Linked DNA regions of Homo sapiens. The protein of the gene in region 4 interacts with the protein of the main gene of each other region in a pairwise test. Each region holds a gene or a part of one and is shown on either strand. Other genes may lie near its edges. The genes, in order: UPK1B, C3orf52, EFNA5 and SLC10A2.

Region 1 (7,026 bases), on a different chromosome or scaffold from region 4:
ACGCCCAGCCCACACTTTTAATTAATGGAGAATTGAGGCTACTAAACACATACTTCAAGGTATGAAAGGAAATTTGAACCACTGTTAAGAATTATTCTGGAGAATAAAAGGATCTGAAGGTGGCATCAAGAGAATCACCCATCTCCATATATGGGAGCTACTCTAGAAAGAAATGCAAAAGGTATATTTCAGTAATCTTTTCCCAACTTCTCTGTTCCCCTGACAATACTGAGATCAACAGAAGCATTGGAAGGTTTCTTTTAGATAATAGTGAGAGATACAGGCAGATTGCTAGCCAAATACAGCTCTGGGTTACTGTGATAACACAGGTTCCTTCGAATGTATTTATTTTCCCAAATTAAAAATAAGCAGGGATGGAAGTAGTTATTATGCATTTTTCAAATTCTCCTTTCAACAGTCTATATAAATGTTGCAGAATGCTAGACTAGGATGAAAAGTAGGAGTCATGAGAACTGCAGAAGCCTGAGATCCTAAAGGAAGTCCGTACCATCTGACTTGGCAATGTAAGACACACACGTTAGTGTGGGGCACAAACGTGGAATATTAGGAGAGAGCTGGTTCCAGCACCAAATCCAGAGTCACTCGGGGAAGGAGGTATGGTGGCAACACTTTATGCTTAATATTCAATTCTGCTCCAGTAGAACATGGTACCCAGGAGAACCCAAAACTGGAATAGAAAAAAACAAGGAAAAATAAACAAGGGATTGTTTTAGAAACATCTCATTCTTGGAAAAAGTGGATGTTAGGTTCATTCAGGCTTAGGTGACAACAGATTTTTTTGTTTGTTTGTTTTTATTTCTTCTAAAAAACCAAAACAAAAACAGGATACATGTACAGAACGTGCAGGTTTGTTACACAGATGTACGTGTGCCATGGTGGTTTGCTGCACCTGTTGACCCATCCTCTAAGTTCCCTTCTCCTCACTCCTCACCCCTCAGCAGGCCCTGGTGTGTGTTGTTCCCCTCCCTTTGTCCATGTGTTCTCATTGTTCAACTCCCACTTATGAGAGGGAACATGCAGTGTCTGGCTTCCTGTTCCTGTGTTAGTTTGCTGAGGATGATGACTTCCAGCTTCATCCATGTCCCTGCAAAAACATGATCTCATTCCTTTTTATGGCTGCATAGTATTCCATAGTGTGCATGGACCACATTTTCTTTATCCAGTCTATTGCTGATGGGCATTTGGGTTGGTTCCATGTCTTTGTTAGATATCAGATTTTTTTTTTTTTTTTTTTTTTTTTTTTGAGACGGAGTTTCGCTCTGTCGCCCAGGCTGGAGTGCAGTGGCGCGATCTTGACTCACTGCAAGCTCCGCCTCCCGGGTTCACGCCATTCTCCTGCCTCAGCCTCCTGTGTAGCTGGGACTACAGGCACGCGCCACCATGCCCGGCTAATTTTTGTATTTTTAGTAGAGACGGGGTTTCACCGTGTTAGCCAGGATGGTCTCGATCTCCTGACCTCGTGATTTGCCCGTCTCGGCCTCCCAAAGTGCTGGGATTACAGGCGTGAGCCACCACGCCTGGCCTAGATATCAGATTTTTAAGAGTAATCTCGTTATAAGCAACATCACTGGGCCAGATGTGACACCAAATCCATCCTGCTCCAAAGCATCACTTATTACCTGCCACTCAGAAGCAACTTCTGTGTTCCCCACGTTCTGATCCCAGTTCTCATCCTAGATTCCTTGTCTTCTGGGGTTGCCCTTCTCGTCTGTGCTAAACTCTTTTTGCCATCAAGGCCACTTATCCTCCAATGCCTTCCTGTTTCTAGTATGTACCATTTCGGGGTAAGCATTCCTTGCTTCTAGTATTAAACTTCTCCCAGGGAACTTCTATTTTTTCCTAAAATGCTTGTGCCCTGGAATGGCTGCCTCTGAAGAATGCCACAGAACTCAAGATATCTGACTTAGGCAAGGGCTGAGTTTTATTTTAGTTTATTTGGGCTCTGTTTTAGATCTGGTACTTACTCCTGGGTAACTTTAGCCAAGTCACTTAAATTTCCTGAGCTTCAGTTTCTACATTTATAAAATAAATATAACATCTCTACCTACCCCAAGCTAGAGCAGTGAATGAGATAATGAAATAATAACAGGGTCTAATGTTTATTAGAATACCTTATTATGCATCACTCACTATTCTAAGTGTTACCCATATAACTGAAGTTAATGCTTCCAAAACCCTATGGAGAAACGGAGGCACAGAGAAGTAACTTACCCAAGGTCATAGAACTAGTAGGTGGTGGAGGTGGGATTCAAACCCAAGCAGTCAGCTTCAGAGCTTATCTAGTTAATCACTAAGAAAAAGCCCCTTGCAAGCAACAGTGAAATGGGCATGCTTAAGAGCTCTTATTAAGCACAATTCTTGAGAGCCCCACTGAATTTCTCTGCTCCTTGTAAGACAGGACACTGGCTACCTGCTTAGCTACTGTTGTGGGGATTTAATATTAAAAATATTTGACATGGTACCTTGTTTATAGCAGGCCCTCAATACATTTAATCATTTAATTCCCTTCCCTTCCCTTCCCTCTTTTGAATTTCAAGAGGGAATTAACTAGATCTAGAGTTTATTTGATACTTGTGGAAAATCAAGGGTTACAACTGGTTTGGAGTTCTAAGATACTCAAAGCCTTTAAACATTATCCCACAGTTCCTGCTAATATGGCACAAATAGAAACTTCACTGTTACCTTTCATTCATTCAACAAATGCTTGAGCCCTTACTACATGCTATGCTTGGCACTGGGGGTACAAAGAACAGCTAGTTCTCAGCTTTTTGCAGTCAAATACATCATCATGGAGAAGTTCCATCATAGAGGTGTGCTCAGGATGTTGTGAGAGCTCCTAACAGGTTGGGTTGAGGGATCATAAAAGACCCCTTGAAGGAGTTGATTTCCCTCTCCTTCCTGCCTCACTCAGTTTATCACCCCCTAAGCTAGCATTTCTTAAAGCATAGTGATATGGTTTAGCTGTGTCCCCACTCAAATCTCATCTTGAATTGTAGCTCCTATAATCCCCACATGTCATGGGAGGGACTCGATGGGAAATAATTGAATCATGCGACCGGGTTTTTTTCTGTGCCGTTCTCGTGATAGGGAATAAGTCTCATGAGATCTGATGGCTTTATAAAGGGCAGTTCCCCTGCACACGCTGTGTTGCCTGCCGTCATGTAAGACATGCCTTTGCTCCTACTTCGCCTTCTGCCATGATTGTGAGTCCTCCCCAGCCATGTGGAACTGTAAGTCTATTAAACCTCTTTTGCTTTATAAATTATGCAGTTTTGGGTATTTCTTCATAGCACTATGAAAATGGACTAATACACATAGTAAACACCTGAGGGACAGTTCAGAAGTCCATTATGTAAGGCTATCTGAATAACAATGAGAATTTATTTGCCTTTTTCACTGTTTTCATATTTGCACTGATGGTGTAAATGCAGTGGGAAGTAAAACTCCTGGAGTATTAGCAAGAATCAAGGCAGAGTCACTAAACTTTGTTAGTGATCATTGTGTCTTCACTGCTACGCACTTGCAGTAAAAAAAAAAAATTTAAAAAGCCAGTTTCACTTGAGATTGTCCTCAATGAAGCAGTAAGAACTACTAATTTTATTACATTTTGGCCTTTGAGTACACATCTTTTTAAATATTCTGCATGACAGAAAGGAAGTATTCATTCATAAAACAGTCTGTTGCATAGTGTAATATGGTTGTCTTAAAAGCACTTGCATGATTAAAAGGAAACACCACTTTTACTTTAAAAAATGATGAACAGACACGCTATGGTTGTTTGGACTTGGACATGTGGCAGATATTTTCTTGAAAATTTACAAAGTGAGTCTGTCACTTCAAGGAAAACAACTGACAATATTCATTGCCAATGATAAATTTGAACTTTCAAGCAAAAATCAGAACCTTGGAAAACTTGTAGTTGTCACCGTGAACTTGATAGCATTCCATTGCTTAAGGTATTTTCCATGTGGCAATATCAATGCCACATGTGATTTTCTGGATATTGCATACATAAATCAGTTAACATTTGGAAGATCTGCATAACACAATGAACTAATATTTTTTCCAAATAAGCAATCTATGATGTTATAGAATTATAAATGGCTGAAAGATATATGCAAAGTGCAAGACAAACCAATGTAATATATTTTAACATAACAGAGTATGAAAAGCTCATTAACAGAATTTCAGATTCCAAATTGCAACTGATCTTTAAGAAGCTACTACTTGTGGGCTGGGTGCAGTGCTCATGGCCATAATCCCAGTGTTTTGGGAGGCCAGGGTGGGAGGATTGCTTGAGGCCAGGAGTTCAAGACCAACCTAGGCAACAAAGTAAGATCCTGTCTCTACAAGAAATAAAAAAATTAGCCAGGCACAATGGTGTGCACCTGTGGTCCCAGCTACTGGGTGAATATTATTAAAGCACTATTTTTTTAATTACATGTCTATATGAAGGATGCATTTTCTCCAGATCATTCAACCTAGGCAACATATTACAACAGATTGAATGAAGGTGCAAATATGAGAATCTAACTGTCTTCTATTTAGCTAGTCATTGAAGAGATTTGCAAAAAAGTCACTATTATAAAATAGTTGTTTTTCCACAAAAATGTGTTGTGATAACTTTTAATGGGCTTATTATTTTAAAATAAATATTTTAAATTTTTCTATGTTAATTTCCAATGGGGTAAATGCCAATAGATATAGGCCACATAGAGAAAAGCTTTCTGGAGTCCTCAATAATTTTTGAGAGTGTAAAGGGGTTCTGAAATCAAAAGTTTGTGACTGCTTCTCTAAGGCAATGGTTGTCAACCCTGACAGCAGATCATCTGGGGGAAATAAAAGTGCCTTGGCTCAACCCCCAGGTCAACTAAATCGAAGTCTCAGAGGTTGGGATCCAAGCAATTTTTAAAAAAAGTTTCCCCATGGCGTTTTAATGTGTAGCCAGGGCTGAGAACCACCGCTCCAACCTCTTGCTGCATATGCGTCAGATAAAGTGGGCAGTAGGAAAGGATGAATCTGCCAGAGGCAGCTCTTTAGAAGGATCTGGGCATATTAGTATCAGGCAGGGGCCATCTAGATAGGTGACAGTCTTTGATATGTGGATGAAATGAATTAATGAGATCTGGAGACCAGGAGGAGCAGTTCACTAAGAACTCTGGCAAGGGAAAGAGGCTCTCCAGCCCTCTAAAGGCAGCTGCCCATCAGCCGGAAGAAGGAGCTGGTTGGCAGGGCACAGCCTTTCCCTGGTAGGGGAAGTTAACTCCTTGCCTCTCAAGAGAACCCACTGTCCTTCTTCCGGTGCCAGAAGTTTCCTGACTAGCCTTCAGGCCTGAGGTTTTGTTTCTAGACTTTCTAGTGTGGTTGAGGTAACCAGTGGCACTCTCAAGGTCTCTCCGTATGATCATCCTCTCAGATAAAATATGTGCTGGGAAATACTCACAGTCCAGCAGAGAATGGCAAATCCAAACCAGGCAACCCCCCAGGCGTGTCGGTTCATTGGACCAGAGATCAGTTCATAGCAGCCCTGAAGGAGTGGGCAATTCCACATTAGTGTGAGAAGAACCAGAAAGCAGAGAAGAGATTGATGGGAAAGCAGGTTCCTATTGGAATCAATGCTACTCAAAATTCTGATTTCACATATCCAGGCTATTTCCACATCTCTGAGGACAGCCAGCTACTAATAGTGCTTTACTAAGGGAACATAAACAATACTGTTGAACAATGATTCCACAACACATTTATTTGTGTCTTTATCACTTAATCTCACTAAAAAGTACTGCTATTTTAGCATAACCCTCTTTCTATACTGAATATGTGGACAATAAATTCAAAAATCTTAATTCAATTAGAATTTTTCCCTCCCCAAAGGCTTCGTTGGTGATTTATTTGGAGGCAGTTACTTTTTGATTTGTTTGTTTTTGAATAAAAATGCTTCTGTCCATGAAAACCAGAGGTCCCCTGTTGCCATTTTTAATAATCATTAAAGGAACTCCTGCATTATGCTCCCTGAATTCTCATTTGATGTTATATTTCAACATATCTTTACTGGATTCTAGTGAGACCTTGAAGGGTCACAGTGAGCATGCAAAGGAATAATTTTTTTATTCACCAAATCATCCATTCATGCATGCCACAATCCAGTAAGTATTTATACATGGCGCACTCTATCCTAGTCACTGTGCAAAGTTCTGGAGTGATACACGCATGTAAGGCTAGAGCTGCCATCTGAGCAGCCTCTACCAAAGCTCTGGGAACCAAAGGGAATGCCTAGGAAATGCAATAACCAGGGCTGGTTCCATGGACCATGCGGCTCTGCCTCTCACCCCATCTTCCACTACCAGAGGAGGTTTCTCTATAAAGCGAATGAGCTTAAGCTTCAGGGCCCCTTACTTGCAAGACCCTTTCAAGGCCCTGTGCCTAATTTTGTATGCATATTTTTATTGTTTTTCCTAAGAAGGATCCTTCCCTATAATTTGTGTGTGAGGGTGGGGGTGGGGGACTCCAGCCACAAAAAATCTAGCTCCATCCTTGTCATCTACTCATCCTTCACTCATTCTGACTTTGTCATACTGATCTCCTTTATGCTCCTTCAAAAAGCTGGGCCTGCTCCCACTTAAGGGCCTTTGCACTCACAACTCCTTTCTTGTAGAACTTTCCTCCCCAATCTTCCGGTGTCTCATTTTCTCACTTAATTCAAACCTCTGCAAATATCATCTCAACAAAGCCTTTCCTGACAGTGACAGAGAAAAAGACCCTTTCTCCATCCTACTCTATATACTCACCCTGCCTTATTTCTGCTCATGGCCTATTTGGGCCTGGAATTTTATCATGTATTTGTTTGGTAACATGTTTATTTTCTGTCTCCCATGCTAGAATGCAAGCTCCATGAGGGCAGGGATTTTATGTTGTTCACTGTTGAATTTCTAGAACCTAGAACAAGTGCTTGGCACATAGTAGACACGTAATAAACATTTACAGAATGAATGGAACATTAATGTTTAC
Region 2 (7,026 bases), on a different chromosome or scaffold from region 4:
AGACTTTTCCTGTGCATACCTCTTTATGTCTTCTTTTTTTTATTTTTATTTATTTTTATTTTTTTGACAGAGTCTCACTCTGTCACTCAGGCTGGAGTGCAGTGGCGCAATCTCGGCTCACTGCAACCTCCCCTCCCGAATTCAAGAGATTCTCCTGCCTCAGCCTCCTGAGTAGCTGGGATTAGAGGCACCCACCAACACACCTGGCTAATTTTTGTATTTTTAGTTGAGACAGGGTTTCACCACGTTGGCCAGGCTAGTCTTGAACTCCTGACCTCAAGTGATCTGCCCGCCTTGGCCTCGCAAAGTGCTGGGATTACAGGCGTGAGCTACCACGCCCGGCCCCTCTTTACATCTTTAATACTAAACAAGGAGAATGTACTCCTGTATTACTTGTGCTCCTCAAAAGCAAATGCCTATACATGTATCACTCGCATCACAGCACGACCTGAGATCTATTTCTACTTCTACCCTTAGCTTATTTGAGCATTCATTGTTAAACAGAAATGGTTTACCTGGGACTGGCTTTTCCCCTCTTCTGTGTGACCCTGGTTGAATTATACCATTAATCTGGGCTTCCTTTTTCTCATTTGTAAAATAAGGGAGTTGAGCCTGTTGGTGTAAAAGACCTTCCCAGCACTGACATTCTGTGATTCTATTACAGGTTCCCTTCATGCTCTGAGGCTCTGGGAATCCCTGCTAGGTAAATGACGAAGGGTGGGGTGGGGGGATCTCTTTCCAGAGAAAGAGAGCAAAATGTAATGTTCCACACTCTTACCTGAAGTCCACTATTTCAACTGAAGTAAAATAACGACCCAGAGAGGGCGATGTACTGTACACATCTGTGAGCTAAACAAACAGAAGCAAATTAAACCACACACATTACCGACAGATCATATTACACATCACCTGACAAAGCAAAACTGCTTCTAAGGCAGAGGAGATTCCACTCCAGCCTGGAATCAACGTTATCTGGAAGCTCTGGATCAAGAATTGAGCCCACCATAAATCAAAACTCAAGTTAATGCTACTTCAAAAGAACTCCATTTATAAGGACCAAATGACTCAGTTTCTCTCAGAAGTTGCACTGGCACCCTGTGGCCTTAGTGGTGAGAATATCAGCAGCTGGAGCCCACACAGGCCTCACAGACCATAGGAAGGAGAGAAGAGAAGACCCCAAAATGGCTGCTGGACAGCAGCAGCACAGACCACTTAGCACCTGGGACATTGCTTAGCCCAGGGCTTCTTTCTCCCTTCTCCAGAGCTTCAGTGTAAAGACAAACAGCCATGCTAAGCCATGGGTCTAGCACATCCCCTGGACAAAGAGACAAAGAGGGGAACTGCAAAAATATGGAGGCTTTATTTTATGCATGAAATATTGCAAGCATCATAAAAAATAATGACACCTGTGTTTCCACTACCTAGCTTTCATGTCTTCATATTTGCTATATTGGGTTCAGCCCTTTAATTTAAGAAACAAAATAAAGCTAAAGTGACTCCTACATACTATTCAGTTCCTCCTCTCTCTCTTTCTTAATACTAACCATCATTCTGAAGCTGGCATGCATCCTTTCCTTGCATATTTTTACAAATTACTACTTATTTATGTAATCATAACAAAATATAATTTGTGTTTTTATTCAAATAAAAGGCACCATATTCTACATAATCTTCTAAAACTTGCCTTTTTTCACTCAAAATTACATTTAAGATTTACCCATAAAGTAAATCTCAATGAAAGGCATTCACCTAACTCCTGCACAGATTCCTTTAAATGAGTATACCAGCCTATCCATTCCTCTGATGATGATCACATGCACTATTCTCAATTTTCCCCATCACAACTTATGCTGAAGCAATCATCCTTAATGTCTCCATGCATCTCTTCTTGGACATGCGGGAGTTTCCAATGGGCATATGCCAAGAAAAGGAATTGTTGGGTTTAAGGGTAGGTGCATCTCCAACTTCACAAAATTGTTCTCCCTTTCCCACCCCTCCCAGCAATGTATAAATATCCATTTCCCACATCCTTACCAGCACTTAGTGTTACCAAACTTAAATTTTTACCACTCCGAGGAGTATAAAATAGTGCTTCACATTGTTTTAATTTGTACTGCCTCGCTTACTAGTGAGGTTGAACATCTTTTCATGTTTATTAACTCTTTGGGACTTTTCATCTCTGAATTTCTCACTCATTTCCTTTCCTTCTCTTGGCTTATCTGTCTTTTTCTTATCTATCTGAAGTGGTTAGTTTTATATTCTGGATACTAGTTGTTGATATTATGTTACAAGTATCTTTTCCCAGGCATTGAGTAGTTGTGTTTCAGATATCTGAATCCTAAACTAGTAGTACTAGGAACATGTGCCATCCCCAGCTACAGCCATTATGGCTTAATGACCTATTACTTTATTCAATAACAAGCAGTCGAACATACAAAAAACAGCAGTGCCCTATGGGGAGCTTACCCTGTTTCCCCTCAACTCCAAATGGAATGTCAAGGACGCTGCACTTCCACAATACACTCCCATTTAACTCAACATGTACAACCCATATCTCAAAGAGAACAAAAGATGAGAGTGCCTGCTATTTCTGCTCTTCTAATCTTGTCACTACTGTTGTGATCTTTATAAAAACCTGGCAAAACAGGCATTAATATATCTCCCCTTTTTACTGGAAAATTAAACAGCACTCCATTCCATGAGATGAAGAAAACCTGTCCCAGGTCACTGTGCTAGTAAAAGGAGAAGCCAAAATTCAATCCTACATGTTATGAACACTAAAAACCAGCTTCTTCCCATCTGACCACACTACCCAGTGAAGAAGAAATTGATATATATACAGTGAAGGAAAGTGTCTCCTGAATATCAAGGAGGAAAGAAGCTTAAAGTGACAAAAACTTTCGGAGAAAATGACTGAGTCATTGTACAGCTCTTAAGCCCCAATGCACAGGATGTTGCCGATAGGCTGACAGTCATTTAGAAAACTCGGGAACTAGGAAAGCAGCTTTCACGGGGATGCTGTGATGGAGAGGAGGATGAGGATGCTGCAGAGGAGAATCTTTTCAAGCACTAATGTCAAGCACTCATGTCTTTCTCTTCCTTTTGGATTGAGCTTCCTATGGCAAAGGTGATATTTATCCTTCCTTCCAGTCTTCTCTGCTTCCTCCTTCCCTTCTTTCCTTTATTAATCTTTAGGGCCCAGCACAGTGTTTTGCACATAACAGGCTTTCAGCAAATTTTTAAGTTAAAATTTTAAGGTAACATATGGAGTGGTCGACTAAATCATTTTTAGTGTTCACTCGAAGATTCTTTTTGATCATGCTCCTCTGCTGTACTTAGGACATATTTACATTTGGGGAGCTGTTAGTCACACTGTCCACTTTGGGCCCAAAGAAGTGAAATAGGGTGGTTCCTCAACCCTTAGTCTTGTGTCTCCCACACAATGTCTATGAGGCTTGGTGCAAACTGAGCAAGGAGCTCAGCGAATTGATTAGCTGAGTCTGATGCAGTGGCTAATTAGAGACCAGCTTCCAGAATAAGGCAGGTGCCATCATTAACTCCTAACCCATGCACAGGGTGTGGTAGTCACACAGGCTGGCTTAAGCAGAGTAATGGCCCCAACCCTGAGAGGAAAACACTGTGGCAGTGACACATGGCAGGGCCTGTGTTTAGAAAAGTCAAGGGAAAGGGCATAAAGTTCCAATACTGTGATATAATAACAATATGTATACTGTTTAGTCTCTGCCCCAGTTCCTGGCACAGAATTCCTAAAACCCTTGTTACTTCCTGAGTGACAGGGGCGCCGGGTACATCTTTTACTCTAACATTTGGTCTTTACTCCAGCTCCTGACACAGACCTGCTCCTAAATCTCTTGCAGTTTCCTGGGTTATAGGAGTGTCTTTATTTCTGATGAGGCAACTCTTGGCGGGCTGCTGGATGGGGGCTGATCATCAGAAAGACCAAGCCGCAGCTAGAAGCTTGGAACTTTCAGCCAGTGTGGTGGAGTGGGATGGTGCATGCGTGTAGTCCCAGCTACTCGGGAGACTGAGCAGGGAGAATCGCTTGAGGCCAGGAGCTTGATATCAGCCTAGGCAATATAGTGAAAACTGTCTGGAGAAAAAAAAAAGAAGAAGAAGAAATCTGAAGCTTTTGGCCCCACCTCCACCCCCATCCTCCAGAGGGGAGAGAGGCTGGAAAGCAAGCTAATAATCCACCATGCCTATGTGAGGAAATCTCCATAAAAATCCCTAAAAGACAGAGTCTGGAGAGCTCCCAGGTGGCTGAACACATTTACAAGGGAGAGTGGCACACCTGAAAGGACATGGATGCCCACATTCTGTCCCACGTGTCCGCCCTATGTACCTTTTTATCTGGCTTTTGATATCCTCTATTTTCTACAGTGTGCCCATAAATGTGATGCTTCCCTGAGCTCTGTGAGCCATTCTAGCAAATGACCAAACCCAAGGTGGGGGTTTTGGAGACCTCCAATTTGCAGCTGGTTGGTCAGAAGCACAAGTGACAACCTAGACTTGTAACTGAACTGGCATCTTTTTTTTTTTTTTTTTTTGGAGACTAAGTCTCGCTCTGTTGCCCAGGCTGGAGTGCAGTGGCACGGTCTCGGCTCACTGCAAGCTCTGCCTGCCGGGTTCACACCATTCGCCTGCCTCAGCCTCCCGTAACTGGCATCTTAAATGAGGGAAGTTTTGTGGGGCTGAACCCTTAAACTATGGGGTCTGCACTAACTCCAGGCAGATCATGTCAGAATTGAACTGGATTGCAAGACACCCAGCTGGTGGCAGATAATTGGTTGGTGTGGAAAACACACACACACACACACACACACACACACACGGCCAAAGAAGTGTTCTGCATTGAATGTGGGTATAGAGAAAAAAATAATTTTTCCCCCACAAATACCCACTTCCATTTACCTTTTATATCCAGAAACTTCTGAAACTTGACCTAATGGAAGAAAGGAGTTATTGACCTGACAATAAGACAGCAATACCTTTAGGTGCTAATTTTTGTTCCTGAGCATATTTGGTTGACGAATGAAGGGCAGGAATCTGTCACCTCACTATGCCTTACTTTGATCATTTGTAAATAAGATAATTCTTTTAAAATGTTTTTCAAGTTATTTTTATGTAATCTCATTTGCACCTGAGATACACAGAGAAAGTGCACTGGTTTCCATTTATCAGCGAAGAAACTGGCTCAAAGAAATCTGTGGACCCACCACAGGCATCAATGTCAGTCCCTGTTCTTTTGCCACTACCTAGTGATGAGCTCAAAATACCCGCAGAATTTCCTCATATCTGACTCTGTGCAAGATATATGGTTGTAAAATGAAAAATGAACATTCATTTACCTTTGAAATAGACAGTCTACTATGCAACAGGTGACACATGTGGATGCTGACTCATCTTATTTCTGCTCAGCAAATGCAAAAACCTCTCCATTAAAAAAGCAGCCAAGAGGAAAGTAGCAAGAAGCGTCTCACTCAGCAACTTGCCCCAGGAAGCAGGTGGAAGGAAAGGAGAAAAGGAGGTGAAGATAAGACATAAATGAAGAGACTTCAAGGACTTGATGGAAAAGGTGGTGGGGGTGAGGGATAAAAGACTACAAATTGGGCACAGTGTACACTGCTCGGGTAATGGGTGCACCAAAATCTCAGAAATCACCACCAAAGAACTTATTCATGTAACCAAATACCACCTGGTCCCCCAAAACCTACGGAAATAAAAAATAAAAATAAATAAATAAATTTAAACAATCTAAAAAAAATTTAAAGATATAAATGAAGAGAAGGAGAAAGAGAAATCTGGAGTAATCATCACAGGATACCAACTCCTGTGATAAAAGAAGCAATGAAATCTCATGCGTGGGTACCCAGAAACTGATTCTGATGTGACCTGGATGGAATCGCCTCTTCAGGAGCTTTTGTAGGAATCAAATCGAATGGAAGTTAGATAAACAGCACTCACTCCATTCAACCTAGCAATGGCAGAGAAGAATTTAATGGAGGGCAGCCTGCTCTTGCCTAGATTTTCTTATCAAAATTTCTGGGTCTGGCTGTGAACCACCTTGTCTTTGACAGGATGATCAGGATGCCCCACCCAACGGTCCTAGTCTGGCTGCAGAGCTTCCATCTTCCACAGAGGGTTCATTCTCCTGGGTTTCTCATCCCATGACTGACACCGCCATCCATCTGCCCAATCACTCAACTGGAGCTTGGAGTCATGCTCTCCTCACCACCACCCAATCAGTCATGGACTCTTATTGAGTGAGAATACCTCTTAAATCTCACGCAAATCTTCCTTATTTTCCCGACACTGCCCTAGTTCAAGTCTCCCTCATTTCTCACCTGGACTATTGTAACACCTTCTAACTGATCTCTTCCTCCTGGCTTTCTCCACCAAAACACAGAAAGGCTAAAAGGAAAAATCTAACTGTGTCAATCTGCTGATTAAAATATTTTGGTGCCTTATTGAAGAGTGGGAAAGCCTTCATGACCTGACGCCTGCCTTCCTTTTTAGCCTTATCTCTGCCAGCTGTCACCACAAAGCATGGGAAGGCCACAGTACACTACTTTGCAGATCCTTTAATGTCCCATGCTTTTTTATTTAGAACATTCCTACCTCATTTCAAAACTCATCCTGAGCATCACTTCACTTAACAGGCCTTTCATGCCTTCATCTTCACCTGAGGTAGCTCAGATGCCCCTCCTTTGCCACTGTACAACACACTAGAACATACCACACTATTATAAAACGATCTTTTTAGTCACTTCCTGTACTTGGACTGTGAGACCCCTGAAGGCACAGACAATGTGGCCCTGGCACTTGGCATGCTGTCTAGCACATCACAGACCCTCAATGAATACTATAGGTTGAATTAAATGTAGGACCTAAGGGAGTAAAAAGAACAGTGTCCTCCAGCATTTATGCAGCTGGAGGCCAGGAATCTTCCCTCTGGCTTTGCACTACAGTAAAGATATTTACTTATTTTTTTAACAAAGTTTTATT
Region 3 (7,026 bases), on a different chromosome or scaffold from region 4:
TTAAAAATAAAAACTAACAGTTTTCCACAAACAATAGTAAGAAAATATTTCAGAAAATTTCCACGGGTTTAGTAAATTTTATAAATTCACTGTTGTGCAATTCCTTTTCCTGTATGTTATTTCATAAAGTAAGCTAGCCATGCTTTGTGTCTTTATATAGAACCTATCTGTTAAAATTTTGCTAAACTAGTAAGACTTCAATCTTTTGAAAAAAGAATAGAGGACTTTAATTGCAACTTAAATAATTTTTTTTATTTTTCCCTCAGAATATAATATGTTCAGTGGGCACGTTAAACTGATGATAATGTACACTGTGTCTAAACGAAGTAAATCTACTTTAGCTTATACTAACAGATTCAATTTGAAATTATGTTTAGGTAAAATCAGAATTAAATGTATCTTGATCACAGGGATTAAGTACAGTATCTTACTGTGTAACTTGTGTCACTTGTGTATCTGGTAGGAGTTTATCTTCTACATGGAGTTTCATTACTGCCTCTCCATTGATAAATGAGCATCTATAGATGTAGTTTCACGGGAAAAAATATTAAATTTATTTGCTGTCAGAATAGTTTTACTGTTACAATCTATGTACCCAGGTATTCACTTCTGAGAAGTGGATACTGAGTTTTCAAATGCTGATAACTTTTAGTTGGTAGTATTTATTGGATAGGGGACCAAACTGATTTTTTTATGTGTTGAATTGGCACAAATTTGTGAAATAGCCACTCAGAACTATCAGTTTGAATAGAAATATATGATAACATTTGCCTAAATAGATCTTCTATATTTCCAAAATTTGAAAACTTGTATAAGTTTTACCTAAAAGTGTAAATAATCAAATCATCCTTTTAATATTATTCTGAATTCTAAACTGGAATGTCACCAAGTAACTTTGAGTAATGAAAATCCACATCAAGAAGAATATAACTATTTGTCCTTAATTTCTTTAAGAATGTAAAAAGCTTTTAAATAAAGTTAAAAAGACTTCCAGTAATAAAAGTTTATTTACATTCTCCTTTAGTAGCTATGCTTATAAAGAGAGTCATAATACTAAGAACATGCCTCTTCATCTGAAGTATGCCATAAGCAGTTTGGTGCTTCTAATAAGAATATACTTTTAAACATCATGTGCGTATTCTAAGTTCTTCTTGGATTATTTTGACTATTTGCTGAAATGATATTAGGGTAATTAAACATATCTCCTACTGGTTGGCATTATTGATGCAATAGTCAAATAATACAGCAGCAAATATGACCAACACACTTTTAGGAATACCAGTCGTCCTCAACCTGGTGCTTTGCTTCTGTTAAGGTTTGAGTATCATCAATTTAAAAGGTTATACTCTTAAGAGGAAAATATCTGTGTAAGTCATGAAGGATTTACTAAACTTTAACCTAATCATGTTTTCTTTGGACTTTTTCAATTCTTGTAGGGACTTGTATATTAAACATTTCATATTAGAGTAGCAGGTAATTGACACCTTTTAGTTTTGTTAACACGTAATCTTGGAGTTGTGAAAGTAATGTGAATTCTAGGTCAACACTCCCAAGTCCTCTGGCAGTACAGGTCAAATGTATGTGGCTAAGAAGAGAGAAGTAGTAACATTTTTTTTTTCCTAATCATATTCCCTTGAGTATTTTTCTTCTTTCAAAATTTAGTTGCTCCATTTAAAAAAAATCTGAGCCATCATCATTTTGACATATGTATACCAGTATGCCGGCACTGTGACCTTTTCACTGACAAGTAAATGAAATCAGCATGGTTTAAATCTAAGAATTTGTTGTGAGTAAAGATTGAAAGTTTATCTTGGTCTTGAATGAGTTTCATCACAAAACTTAGATTGTCCTTACTTTTGAAATTTTAAATATTTTAAGTAATATTTTGTATGTTAGAAACATAAATGTTTTTCAAGTAAAAGGCATTAACTTTAAGCCTCAGTGTAACGTATCACATTATTAGATGTATTGGTAGTAATTTTGTTACTCTGAAATTTAGATCAGAATTTATGCAAGTACCAGGCTAAAAATAAGGCAGTATGATTGAGGTTTATAACCCATGTTTTTATGCTTATATGTTTATAAGAGACGTGAATTGACCCTCCCCCCTTTTTAATCTAGAAATTTGTAAAAGAGAAGTATGATTCCTGTTTTTTGGTGAGTTTTCCATAGAATTTTGAAAAGCAGAGTTAGCTACTAAGATATGTTCTACCTATTTGATTCATTATTTTATATATTCACAATAAACTATCAGAAATACTCAACTGTCTGATTTTTAGATGATAGGAACATTAGAGCTATTTGAGGCAGATTTGGCTATACAGTCTAATTTGGCATTTTCAGGGTAAGACCAAGGTCAGTAAACTACTAGTGATTAAAAGTATCAGAGTCTTCAGTAGTTTATTACTCTCTGTTAGGTGATTTTAGTGGTAATAACTAAACCATCAGCTCACTGAACTAATATCTTGTTGTCATGTGTGTTGTGGCTGACAGTAGCTTCAGAAGCTTCCACCTTTGAAGGCTGAGGATCAGGTTTGGAGGGAACACTTAGTTACTTGGGTGCAAATTAACCTTGTGAATTTCTTGCCATTTAATCTTGCAGAATACCTTCTGAACAGGCATTTCACTGCATTCTGTCCACTGGCCTGGTTTCCTGTTGGATAAGGACATAAAGATGGGCGCCTCCTTTTCTCCCCTGTTGCTATGAACCAAGCAAGCTACCAGCTTCACGCTGGGCCAAGAAAATGAATGAATACAATTAGTCCTTCAGGAGTTCTGGCCTTTGCTAGCTTGGGATAAGTATATGCCAGAAAATTTACCTTTGAGAGAGAGAAAGCATTAAAATAAAAATGAACAAAATATGAGAATATGTTAAGAATAGAATTTTACATGTTGGGTAGCATTTGGTCTAGTGGCTTATTGGTTTGTGTTTTCAATATAAATTTAAAAATTTTTTATAAGATACCACTCAACCTTCCTCATTTTTGTGCATGTGTTGAATAACTTCGGTAGCAATAAAGACTTAAAAAGCTGTGATATTTTGTTTGAAATAATGAACGACTCTGTGTTGACGATTCTATATTATCAATTTTCTTTTCAGAAGCAGTATACAAACTGTTAAAATAGCATTCCGGATTAGAATATCCATGTTGCAAAGGAAGCCTCAATTTCCCTAAGCACAGTGAGGAAGGTCCTTGCCTCTTACCCAGGACAACTCAGTCAGATCCGCTTTCTGAACTGAGGAAAAAAATTGCCCTTTGATCATTTGTGATGGATAACACCTTCATTTTCAGGTATAAAATCCTCAAAGAGGAGTATAAGAAATGAGGTATTAATATTCACTTTTAATAATTTGTCTTACGATGGTGGTCTTAGACAGCCAAACATCAATAAATTACTGTCTCTTTTAAGGGCCTGATTTATATTATCAAATTTATATTTTAGTCTGCTTTTCAACCTATGTCCTGAGCTGTTTTGTAGAAAAGTTTCTTGTGATTAATGTGAACTTCCAGTGCTTCTGAATAGGATATTACTCACTACTAGGAGATTTATTTCCTCTTAAATTTGTCTGCATTTATGTTTTCAAAATTTAGTCAGTCATAAAGGAGCACAATGACACAGGACCATCTAGCTTAAAATTAAAAATTAATCAAGTTTTTTCTGACTACAACTATTTTGCATGATCTTGAGTAAAATCATTCCTAATATCTTCATATTCTTGATAGTACTTTTTATTGTACTCTCTAAAGGATTTATTGTAAACTGAAATCCGTGTGCTATTTTCTAATTGAAAAATTTGAGTGGATGCAAATTCTTGTTTTTGAGGCTTCTGAATATAATTTTCAAACAGTAAACCATATAGTTCAATGAAAACATTATTTTAAAATATTGAAAACTCTTATTTAGGCTAGCTAGTTGCTGAGAGACAGTAGTGTACCACAGTGATGGTTAGCTCAGCTTTCATTCAGGTAGAATTCTATCATTTTCAATAAGGAAAAATAAACCTTTGTCATCTTTAGAAACATCCTTCATACAATTGACAGTTGACAGGTTGAAGAAAATGTTACTGTCAGGTCTTATTTTCCACTCAAGTGAGGAATAAAAATACGTTTGAATGATTTTTAAAAATCTATTTTAAAATTATTTCAAGATGGATAAAATGCTCTTAATTTTTATATGCATATCAGAATTGATCTTCCAGTTGCTTTAGGGAGGGTCAGCAAAGTGTAGCTCAAGGAGAGATCGTCTAACAGTAAAGTTCCTATGATTTTTACTTTTAAAAAGTCAAGTACAGTTGATTTGATTGTAATAGGATATTGCTGCAAGTTTTATGATTGGATTCTTAGGAGATATAAGATATAAATATTCTTTCTATTATAGCTTATCAAGTGACCTGATTTTCATGACTGATGATCACGATTCTGGTGTGAACTAAAAGTGGGAGTTTTGGCATATGCTCTGGACAGTCATATATGTTAGCAAATATGTATATGCCTTGGACAATCATGTTGTTAGTACACATTGATTAGACCTGTTTTAAAAATCGCTTTGCTATTAATGATTTAAAATAACCACGCAGTATAATATATGGATTACCATGTTGGAAACACATGAATACCTACTTAGAGATTAGAAAAAATATGATTAAGTGCTTATTTCCTGATTTAGAAAAGCTTGTTTTTTGGCTTTCAGTTAAATCAGCGTGTTTTTTTTCCCCCCTAGAAGCAGCCATCTTGTTTTAAGACCGATTTTATTTCTTTCGTGAAATTGGTTCGGAAATGAATATGGACGATAGAAAAGGACTAAACCACTTTATGATCATTTTGGCAGGGCTCTCTACATTTAAAGCGCTATCTTATTTGCGAACTTACTAAAATGCTATCTTCTTATATTTAGTTGACAGAAAAGGATGTTTTAACTTAGTAATAATATGCTTAAACCCAGGCATATTATATATTAATGTTAAATGTTGGGCTGTACCATGTTTCCATACATATTTTTTTCTCGAAGCTTATACTTTATGGCTAACTTCAAAGTGATATATTAATAGCCCCTATTGTCACCTCCACCCTCAAATCCTGATTTCATTTTTCTGACTATGCTAAGTAGTTCTTTTTATTTGTTGGTTGCCTTTTTTTTTTTTTTTTAATTACTCAAGTCTACCCGGAATCTTTCTCCCGCAAAAGGTACTGATAAGAGTATAGGTACCTCTAAATATGAAGCAGTTGGGGTTAAGATGCGTTATATTAAGTCAGAGCCTTTTTGTCTCTGAAATATAGGCTCTTCCTATCACATTAGAACAAATCTTTCTTGTGGGTTCTCATAGATTATTTTACAAGTAAATTCATATTTGTTACTAAAAATTATGAGAGTATATCAACTGACTGCTATATTTTCTGTCATGTTTTGTATTTCTGGATACATTTGGAAAACCAAGTGACCTAATAAACTTTACTAAAAATTTATACTATACTGCTTACTACTGCATGTGTTTGATGATGGCTGGGAACATTATTCTCATGTACTGCAGTAAAAGCAGAGCTTCCGTAAGATTAATTTCAAAAGTAACCTGACTTAGCCTGATTAAGCTGGGCACAGTGAAATATTACTTATGTCACTTATGAAAAACTGCTTCAGTTCATTAGAGGTAGGATTTTGGGTGGTTGTAGATGTAGTGTAAAGGCAATAAATGCATGTTTTAATAACAGATACATGTATCGCGGTTAAAGTTCAGGTACGAGTTGACCATTTTTGCGCAGAAAACTTTCCTCTGATATCTAGCATCTGTTTTTCTTTGGCTAGTGAGAAGACTAAAATAACTTGAATGTTCAAAGTGACCTTTTGTTTTTAAATGAACTAACAAATACCTTTTGTTTTTTTTCTTGCTGTTTCCAAGCTGTCAGAGTTTCCATTTTAAAATTTATTAATTATTTATATATGTAAAAACTATAATTAAGAATTAGCTCTTGCCTCTTTCCCTGGAAATTATAAAAGTAAATGAAAGTATTTTTATATGAAACAGGCAGTGTTGTGGTTTGAATTAAATGAGGTTATGGCATAGTTAGGTTGGATAATTATAGTGCAAATTGTTATCTAGGTTGTGATGATGACAGACATGATACTTGATGTTTTATATTTTGTAGATGTCAGTGGGATATACAACTTTGTTACATTTACTGAACTCAATAATGTATAGACAACTTCACGTGCTTACATTTTTAATAGTTTTTAATTTTATGGAGACAAATGAGAATGGGGGGAAAAGGAAAAAATAATTCTAAGTATGGGAAATTATCTTTTGTGTCTAACAATTAGGTTAAACAAAGTGGGAGCAAATGAGCCTAGTTCCCCTTCTATTGTTTCAGGGCAAGAAAATACAGACAGATGTCGGAATGTGGAAGCGGTGACCTCTGACTTGCACAGCATGGCCACTGCCCTGGCACACAAGTGTCCTGAGCCACCATCGTAGCAGGATGCGTTTTTGAAGTGACTGACACTTTGAGATGGAGATCTTGAAACTGATTCTGTAGCTATTTGCAGACCTCCAAAGTATCAGTCTTTTTAGTTTTCATTTTAAGTTTCTCACCTTACCATTTATGAAAATGTTTCTTTGGCTCAGACAGAGCTTTTGTGGCTTCCGGATGGCTTCTCTGTCCATATAGTCGCTATAAATCTTTGCCTCCCAATAATTTTATTCAACATGTTGGGATAATGGAGGCTAAGGGAAGCTCAGATGTATGGTTCTGCTGCAGCAAAGTGTTTGCCTGCTTTATTTAGCTAATACTTTTTTTTTCTTCTTCTTCTTCTTCTTTTTTTTTTTTTTAACAGACAGATGAAAGCAGTGGTTTTGTTAAAGGCCTTTTCTTTTAGCCTCTGCTCTGCAATCTCGCCAGTAACCCCTGGGTTCAGACAGACCATTAATGTTTTAGATACTGTGGCATTCAGTGCTTTCTTCATATATTTGTTTACTGTTACTGCTTCAATAAACTTTTACGCCTATTTCAGTAGTTTTCTGGCGGGAGCTCC
Region 4 (7,996 bases):
CTTCATGCCATTGCTGGAGTTCAAGTGGAGATGGAGAAGGTAAAATTCTAAGTGTACACAACTGGAAATATAAATGTTAGATAGGATTGTATCTAAGTAAATTATCAGGAGACTTTAGTTATCCAGTTCTTAATCCAGAAGAATAAAAAGTTTTGGAAAACTGTTACGCAATAGCTCAGGTTTTACCCTTTTAATTAATTTGTATTAAAGAAATATTGGAATATTGTTTTCCTAACACACAATGCATAATGTCATCATCTTACATAGCAGTATAATTTAACCTCTTCTCAATGATTAAGACCGATCATGATAAACATGATTATCGGTTGTTCTAAAATACCGTGACATCTTCTTGTGTTTGTAGAAGAGTAAGTGATACAGAGACCAGAGACTGGAATAAGTGCTACAGAAACCAGAGAGAATAATTGATAATTAAGAGAGAATATGTGATAGAGAGAATAAGTGATAGAGGATAAATGATAGAGAGATGGCTGTGTGTTGTCAGTGTCTGCTTTGCTTTGCAGGCATTTGATCTTCTCTTTTGCCCTTCCTAACACTCTGCTTCCTTCCCCGCTTCTTATTTCTGGGAAATAGCACAACAGAACTTTAAAATAAAAATAGTTAAGTCGGTCCCGCATGAGGAGCATTTATGAGATTAAGTGAAATTTATTTTGGGTGTGCAGTGTCTTTTATTGGGTCTTGTTGAGCTCTGGATAGGTGAGGTTGCTCCATGTTGCGTTACAGGGCTTATTTTGACTTGCTGGAAGGATTCATTTGCACGGATTTAGCTGGAGGTTTCTACCAAAGCTTCATATTCTACTTTTAGTTCTTATTAAAAAAAATAATTTATAGGAATTGTTATGCTAGGTGGACAGGATTACATAATCATCTCCTGTTTCAAGAGAAATAAGATTTCCTTAAAACCACAGAAAAATGTAACTTGGAGCTTTTAGGTTAGATCTTACTGTTTTTAGCTCACAGAAGAGAATTCATTTCAACAACCTAATAGTCCAGTACCACACACGTTTTTTTTCTGTCTTATAAAAGGGTTCCATATGTGGTATTACATTGAGGTACAAAACTCCTCTGCACTAAAAGTTACAAATATTATGAGAAAGCTGTTTATTGGGGGTCAAGGCCCAATGTTCCAAGTAGTTCACTTTTCTCAGTGTAACAGGTGCTGGCATTTAGAATTCTCACTTCTGTGTACCTGTGTCCAGGTCAAACTAAATTGAGGTCTAAAAAGACCTTATTGCTATATCGTGGTTCACAGATTAACTAAACCTGAATAGCACTTGCCATCCTATGTTGTTTTATAGGGCTTTCCTTAAAAAAAAAAAAGCAATTGCAAGGTGGATATCATGTGTTTTCTTATGTGAAAGACTAAACCATATGAAGGTATAGGGTTTGTATGACTTTTCTAAAGCTTCTGGAGAAACCAGCACCAGTTGAAATGAGACAGCAGGTTCCTAATTGATCACTGGGTACTCTATCAATCCAGTGTTTACAATTCTACACTTTGTGCTTCTCTCCTCTGCCAATAGTAGCTGGGGATGAACAGAGCTAATTGCCTACTGTACAGTATTTAATAAGCACACGTTGCATTAGCACCTGGATGGTTTGCAGAAGGAAATGCATACCTTTCAAGGGAAATGAGGAATTGTGAGCTAAGGAAAAAGACATTTGTCTATTCAACTTTTAGCATTAAATTTCTCAATCTAGTCACATTAATGCTTCATCTTATTTCTATTAGTTTTTTTTTCCAGTGCTAGTTCAGACTGGCACGGGATGAAATGGGCAAACATTGCAATTTAGATTACTCTGTAGGAAGTGGAGAAAACGTTTTCTGTTTATTTTGTAGTAAGGTAAGCATAATTTTAAAAAAGCTGCTATAGGCTTTTTCCCCCACTTTTAATGCCAGTAGAGGTGAAGCAAATTTACAAATTCTTCCTTAGGTTTTATACCAGGAAAATGTTTGCCCAAAGAACTGGCTATATTTGATGGAGTTGACCACTGTCTCACTACAGGTTCTAATGTTTGACAAACAGTTTTATTTTATGATTGCACCCAGAGCTCCTCATCATTACAAAGAAAGTGTATTTTGCTTTTTTTTTCCTGCTACCAACAGGATAAACCTCCTCAGCTGCAGCTTGTGGTTTGGAAAAGATTACTTTTTTAAAAAAGCTTTGAATCTTTTCCTAGAGATCAACAGCAATTATGCAACTCCCTGTTAACTGAGTTAGATTTAAAAACACAAACACAAAATATAAATCCCCCAATTCCAATAGCTAAGCAGCTGTGCTAGAAGGCACGGGAATGCATTTATTCTCTCCTGTTTGATTCCTTAGTCATACTTTAGATGCGTGGCAAATCAGTTGGACATTCAGAATGCCATAGGCTTCTGGAAGGATTACTCCAAGGTGATTGCAGTAGTTAGAGGTATAGATAATCTTACCTCAGGTCCATGTCGCCATCGACCCAATAGGCCAAGATATTGGAGGCAGTTCCTCCAGGGCAGCATCCTATAATGAGCACCACTACGGCCTGGAGCGGGAGGATGTCAAAGGCCACCGACAGGATGAATCCTGTGAGGGGCATGATTCCAAACTGACAGAGGAAGCCAACACAAATGCCCCACGGCCGCTTTATGTGCCCTAGAAATTTCTTGATTTCCACGTTGCATCCCATGGAGAACATCACCAAGGCCAACAGGATGGTCAGCACCGTACTTAGGACCACACTTAGGATGTTATTGAAATTGCTCTCAGGTACCACACAGGATGCACCAGAGCAAACTGTTGCATTGTCCACACAGCTGTTCGGATCATTCATTGCTGGGTCTGCTGCTGGAAAGGCCAAGTCCACAGAAGCGCTGGTCCCTGGGCCCTGGCTCTGCTGCTGGTTGAGTTAAGCAACGTTTACTTCTACCCCATCAAACTTTTAAACCCCTCCTAAAAATATGTCACTTGGTGTCTCTTTTGAAAGCCACCTTAGGGAAGTAATAAAAAACAATAAAGCTAGGATGTCAGTTTCAAGAGGTAGCATTACAACACAGAGCACGTTGTGAATCACAAAAGTCCAGCAAAATTATTGGTCAAGACAGAGAGTTACGATTAATCATTTATTGGCATGATAATGAACCATGCCATATAAAAAGAGCCACGTTAATGTTTAATGTCCTCGAGGGTTTGTTGGATAATTTCAGTTAAGTGACTTTTAAAATCAACTCTGAATAGTACAGAATCTTATAGGGATTGAGCCATAGGAACCATGCCATATAAAAAGAGCTGTGTTAATGTTTCATGCCATGAAGGTTTGTTGGATAATTTCAGTTAAGTGACACTTAAAATCAACTCTGAATAGTACAGAATCTTATAGGGACTGAGCCATAGGAACACATATTGTTCTCCCATTTCCCTTTCAATAGAAGGGTTTAGGGCCCTGAATAGTTGAGTGCCCTGTGCCTAATTATGTTGCAAATCAGGTGTCAGACTCTGAACTGGGACCCAGATCTCCATCCAATTTCCACTCCCAGTAGTTTTGCTACTGTATCAGTGTTTCCTGGAATTGCTTTGTAGTGTCCATAAAGTATATGGAAATTTAAGAAACTTCTAGGGTCTTGGTGCAAATCTGAGAGAGTAACATTTGGGAAGATAGAATGTTTTCTGTGTTTCCTGGTGGAAAGGAGTCTGACTTGCACAGCCACCCTCAACTACTTACACATGCAATTATGTGTGCGTTGTCATAGTAACAGAGTACTTTATAGATGGAGACAATACAATTATTTAGAGGGATGAACCTCAGAGAATTAGGTCAAAGTGACAGGATCTCTTTGTGCTTGGAGTCATAAATTGAAATTCGATTTTTTTTTTTTTGGCAGGGGGATTCCAAGAGAGATTTTTGTAAATGTCAAATAGTCGACCTCATGCTGGGCAGAACGCTGTATTTCAGTATACAGGGAAGATAAAGAAAGAGGTAGAGAAGAGATTGTCCTGTTTTCAGGAGTTTATAACCCAGTTATTGAGTTAGGACACAGAGTAATAATAAAATTGAATATTCCGATCATGATTCACAATTTGTAGGACAAATTCTAATTTATTATTCAACTTAATCATCTTAAATTAAGTAGGATTAGCACTCCCATTTTACAGATGACGACTTAAGGGTTGAGGAAATTGAGTGCTTTAGATAAGGTTAAAGGGAAATGAGAGAACAACGTGTTTTCCTATGGCTGGTATCTGGAAATACTGGAACCGAGCGTTCTGATTATGTGAAGAAAGTGGTCGGTTTGGCTTGCTGGGGATTGGAGTAATATCTTAGAACAGAGCTTCTCAAAACTCAGTGTGAACAGGATTCCCCTGGGGGCCTTGTTAAAATGCAAATTCTGATTCTGGAAGTCTAGGGAGAGTTTTCTTTCTAGCAAGCTTGTAGTTGATGGCGATGACACTGATCTGGGGTCACACTTTTAGTATCATGGCTTCAGAATAGCAGAGTGACAACAGTTGTACCCATATTGGTGACAACGGAACTTACCGGTCACAACTGAAAGCAGCTTTTGCAGAGAAACTCAATATGGGAAAATTAACCTTTTTCATAACTGGAGTAAATGTGAGCTGTGGCTAGCAGAATGGGCCACTGAGCAGAAGAGCTAATAGAGTGAAATGCCCAAACCACAGGTGGGGGTGCCTAGGCATTGAGCTACTGGGAAAAACCTGAGCCATTTCCTTCCAGGGCAACCGTGATTTGTACTTGTTGATGTGGCTATCTGAGTGGTCACGTCCTGCCTGCCTTTCTAGCACAAGTGGGGGCTGCCATTGTCCCTGACCTGGCTGCCTGCCAATTCCTGGGAGAGCCTTCTGTCTTTCCCACCTCCTTCCCCACCCCAACAGCTAAATGATAAACCAGGTAATATCCAAAGAGGCCTCCCCTCCCACTCCTAGGTGTATCATGACTTGGCCCTACCCTGCTGGCTGCTCCAAGCATTTCCTGGGACTGACCTCTGGCCTACTTCTGTCGGGAGCTGGCCCTCCCCAGGGCAGATGAGCCAAGTGCACTCCCTGCTGCCACACCTGAGCATCTGCACCTAGCCGCTCACACCTGGGCACCTGCACCTGAGCACCTGTGGCTGGCTCTTCCCCCAACTCCCAAAGGTGGGTGAGGCAGATGCCCATGCAGTGGTGATCAGTTTACGGTCTCTCTTTTCTGATTTCTCTTAACCTCAAACATTAGGTGAAAGGCAGAAAGCTAGCCTAGGATTGAACGGCAAATAGCCTCTTCACCAGGTCTGATCTGCAAAGGAAAATTTGAGCCCTGCAGGCGGGAAGGATTTGGATTCTGAAATTTCTCTTAAAGTTGGAAGGCTGCAGTGCAAGGCCCAATGCACAGGGCTCAAGACAAGCATATTTAGACACCCTCCTTTGAACTCAAATGGGTTTCCCAGGGCAGGCCTCCTGTTTTGGGCCATGGCTGCTTCTGGGTTGGCCAGGTGTGATCCATACTTAGGCTTTTTGCTCACAGTGCTGGAAGCAGGGAAGAAAAGTGAAGGGAGCAGAAAGCAGGTTCAGAACAAAGCTCTTCTCAAATTTCAGATGACTTTCTAAGGAGATTTTAGGCTCCCAGGGGCAGAATGCTTTGCATATAGACAACTTGCAAATGAGCAGTCTGTTTGACTAGACAGAGTGCTACAGTTCTGCTTAAAAAAAAGTGCCAATGCATTTCTAATTTCACATTGTTTTTACATAAATTTGCACATTAGGCTTGAGAGGTTTTATATTCAAGTATCGGAATGATTCACAATTAATTAGTACCCTTAACTTCAGCTATATTCAAATCCAGACACTGAAAGTATCTAAATATATAAAAATCATTCTCAGGAAACAACAGGTGCTGGAGAGGATGTGGAGAAATAGGAACACTTTTACACTGTTGGTGGGACTGTAAACTAGTTCAACCATTGTGGAAGTCAGTGTGGCGATTCCTCAGGGATCTAGAACTAGAAATACCATTTGACCCAGCCATCCCATTTTACTGGGTATATACCCAAAGGACTATAAATCATGCTGCTATAAAGACACATACACACGTAAGTTTATGGCAGCACTATTCACAATAGCAAAGACTTGGAACCAGCCCAAATGTCCAACAATGATAGACTGGATTAAGAAAATGTGGCACATATACACCATGGAATACTATGCAGCCATACAAAATGATGAGTTCATGTCCTTTGTAGGGACGTGGATGAAATTGGAAATCATCATTCTCAGTAAACTATCGCAAGAACAAAAAACCAAACACCGCATATTCTCACTCATAGGTGGGAATTGAACAATGAGATCACATGGACACAGGAAGGGGAACATCACACTCTGGGGACTGTTGTGGGGTGGGGGGAGGGGGGAGGGATAGCTTTAGGAGATATACCTAATGCTAAATGACGAGTTAATGGGTGCAGCACACCAGCATGGCACATGTATACATATGTAACTAACCTGCACATTGTGCACATGTACCCTAAAACTTAAAGTAAAATAATAATAAAATTAAAAAAAATAAAAAATCATTCTCTTTAATTGTAATACGGAATTGGAAACAGATGCACACCTGAGAGGGGTAGTCAGGAGGCTGGAGCTTCATTTTCGTCGTCATCCTTCTCAGTCTTTTCTGCTACATTTTGTCACACCCTGGGCTCACATGCAGGCCACCCTCAAGAAACCAGGAGCCGGTTCCTGCTTCTGGCCGCCTGGGCGCAGACATGAGAATTTGACATCTGAGGCTTCCCTTTTGTTCCTGTGTATCAATTTGAGGAGGCCAGGGTTCAATAGCTTTCTAGCATGTTTGCCCTGAGGTTCACATGATAAAAGATGAGCTTCCTATCTTCTATTGTGTTTCATCACAAATGGCTCTATTCAGATCAATGGCCCTCTTGGATTTGATTGACTCTGTTAAGTACTTTCCTGTGACTGAAGTTATCTCCCTCTCTCTCCTCTCTAGTTCCTTTCTACAGATTGATCTTTTATGAAACCTGAAAGTCCCACAATTAGAGCTCTTTGGAGTTACCACTGACCCTCTTTAAGGCAACAAGTACCTTGGGGAGAATGCCCCGTGAATGACTAGCTATTCATTCTTGAGTCTTTAGAGGGAAAAGGCAGCATAGTATTGAGGAGAAGAAAGTAGGATAGAAGAACCTGGAATCTACTGGATGGAAAATGCACTAGGCTTGGAATCAGAACTGGGTTCTAGATCTGCTTCTTTTGAAAATACTGTGCAGACTATTCAGGTTTTTATGAATGAATGTGAATCCTTATTAAACATCTGTAGGATGGTCCCACCACTTTGGAAAATGATTATAGCTAAATGTCCATATGCCCTCCGACCCAGCCATTCCAGTCCTAGGTTTCAATCTAAAGAAATCTATAAATTAAGTTCCCCAAGAGACATGAACTAGAATGTTCACAGTGACTCCATTCATAATAGCGTCAAACTGGAATCTATCCAAATGTCCATCAAGGGTAGAATAGGTAAATATATTGTGGTATATTCACACGATGGACTTCTATACATCAGCTGGATGAGTAATCTACTACCACAAATCTAATGTTGAGTGAAAGAAACCAGAAACTAAAGAACACATACAAAAACAGGCAAAGCAAATCTATGGTGTTAGAAGTTAGGATAGTCGTTACCTTGGCAGTATGGAAGATCAGAGACTAGGAGGGGTCACAAGTACCAATACTTCAATATAAAGTAAACAAAAACAAAAACAAAAATCAACCTGACACATTTGATAAGAAGAGATTGGGGAGTGGTCTGTGCCCATGCCTAGAGAAGGCAGGAAATGACACTAAACTTGAGAAGAAGTCAGGAGAGAATAAAGGCTGGGAGTAGAGATGGGAGGAGAAGTTGGGGGGTAGGGCTAGGAGGTGGGTAGGTGGATGGCTAGTTCACTTTCATCGTTTTAGCAAGGGTTGGCTCTGTTAATTATCCTGTATCTTAC

Evidence for each region.
Region 1: the proteins of SLC10A2 (region 4) and UPK1B interact in binary tests that used the Homo sapiens proteins (3 or more experiments, as listed by UniProt).
Region 2: the proteins of SLC10A2 (region 4) and C3orf52 interact in binary tests that used the Homo sapiens proteins (3 or more experiments, as listed by UniProt).
Region 3: the proteins of SLC10A2 (region 4) and EFNA5 interact in binary tests that used the Homo sapiens proteins (3 or more experiments, as listed by UniProt).

What each region holds. Positions count from the first base shown.
Region 1 is NC_000003.12:119,197,579-119,204,604, reverse strand, and holds part of UPK1B (uroplakin-1b), read right to left. Parts: intron 5,549-7,026; coding exon 5,465-5,548; intron 689-5,464; coding exon 638-688; 3' UTR 1-637. UniProt on the Homo sapiens protein: Component of the asymmetric unit membrane (AUM); a highly specialized biomembrane elaborated by terminally differentiated urothelial cells.
Region 2 is NC_000003.12:112,103,366-112,110,391, reverse strand, and holds part of C3orf52 (TPA-induced transmembrane protein), read right to left. Parts: intron 850-7,026; coding exon 779-849; intron 1-778. UniProt on the Homo sapiens protein: Has a role in LIPH-mediated synthesis of 2-acyl lysophosphatidic acid (LPA). LPA is a bioactive lipid mediator involved in different biological processes, and necessary to promote hair formation and growth.
Region 3 is NC_000005.10:107,660,912-107,667,937, reverse strand, and holds part of EFNA5 (ephrin-A5 isoform 1 precursor), read left to right. Parts: intron 1-7,026. UniProt on the Homo sapiens protein: Cell surface GPI-bound ligand for Eph receptors, a family of receptor tyrosine kinases which are crucial for migration, repulsion and adhesion during neuronal, vascular and epithelial development.
Region 4 is NC_000013.11:103,063,418-103,071,413, forward strand, and holds the start of SLC10A2 (ileal sodium/bile acid cotransporter), read right to left. Parts: upstream 3,001-7,996; 5' UTR 2,833-3,000; coding exon 2,456-2,832; intron 1-2,455. UniProt on the Homo sapiens protein: Plays a critical role in the sodium-dependent reabsorption of bile acids from the lumen of the small intestine. Transports various bile acids, unconjugated or conjugated, such as cholate and taurocholate.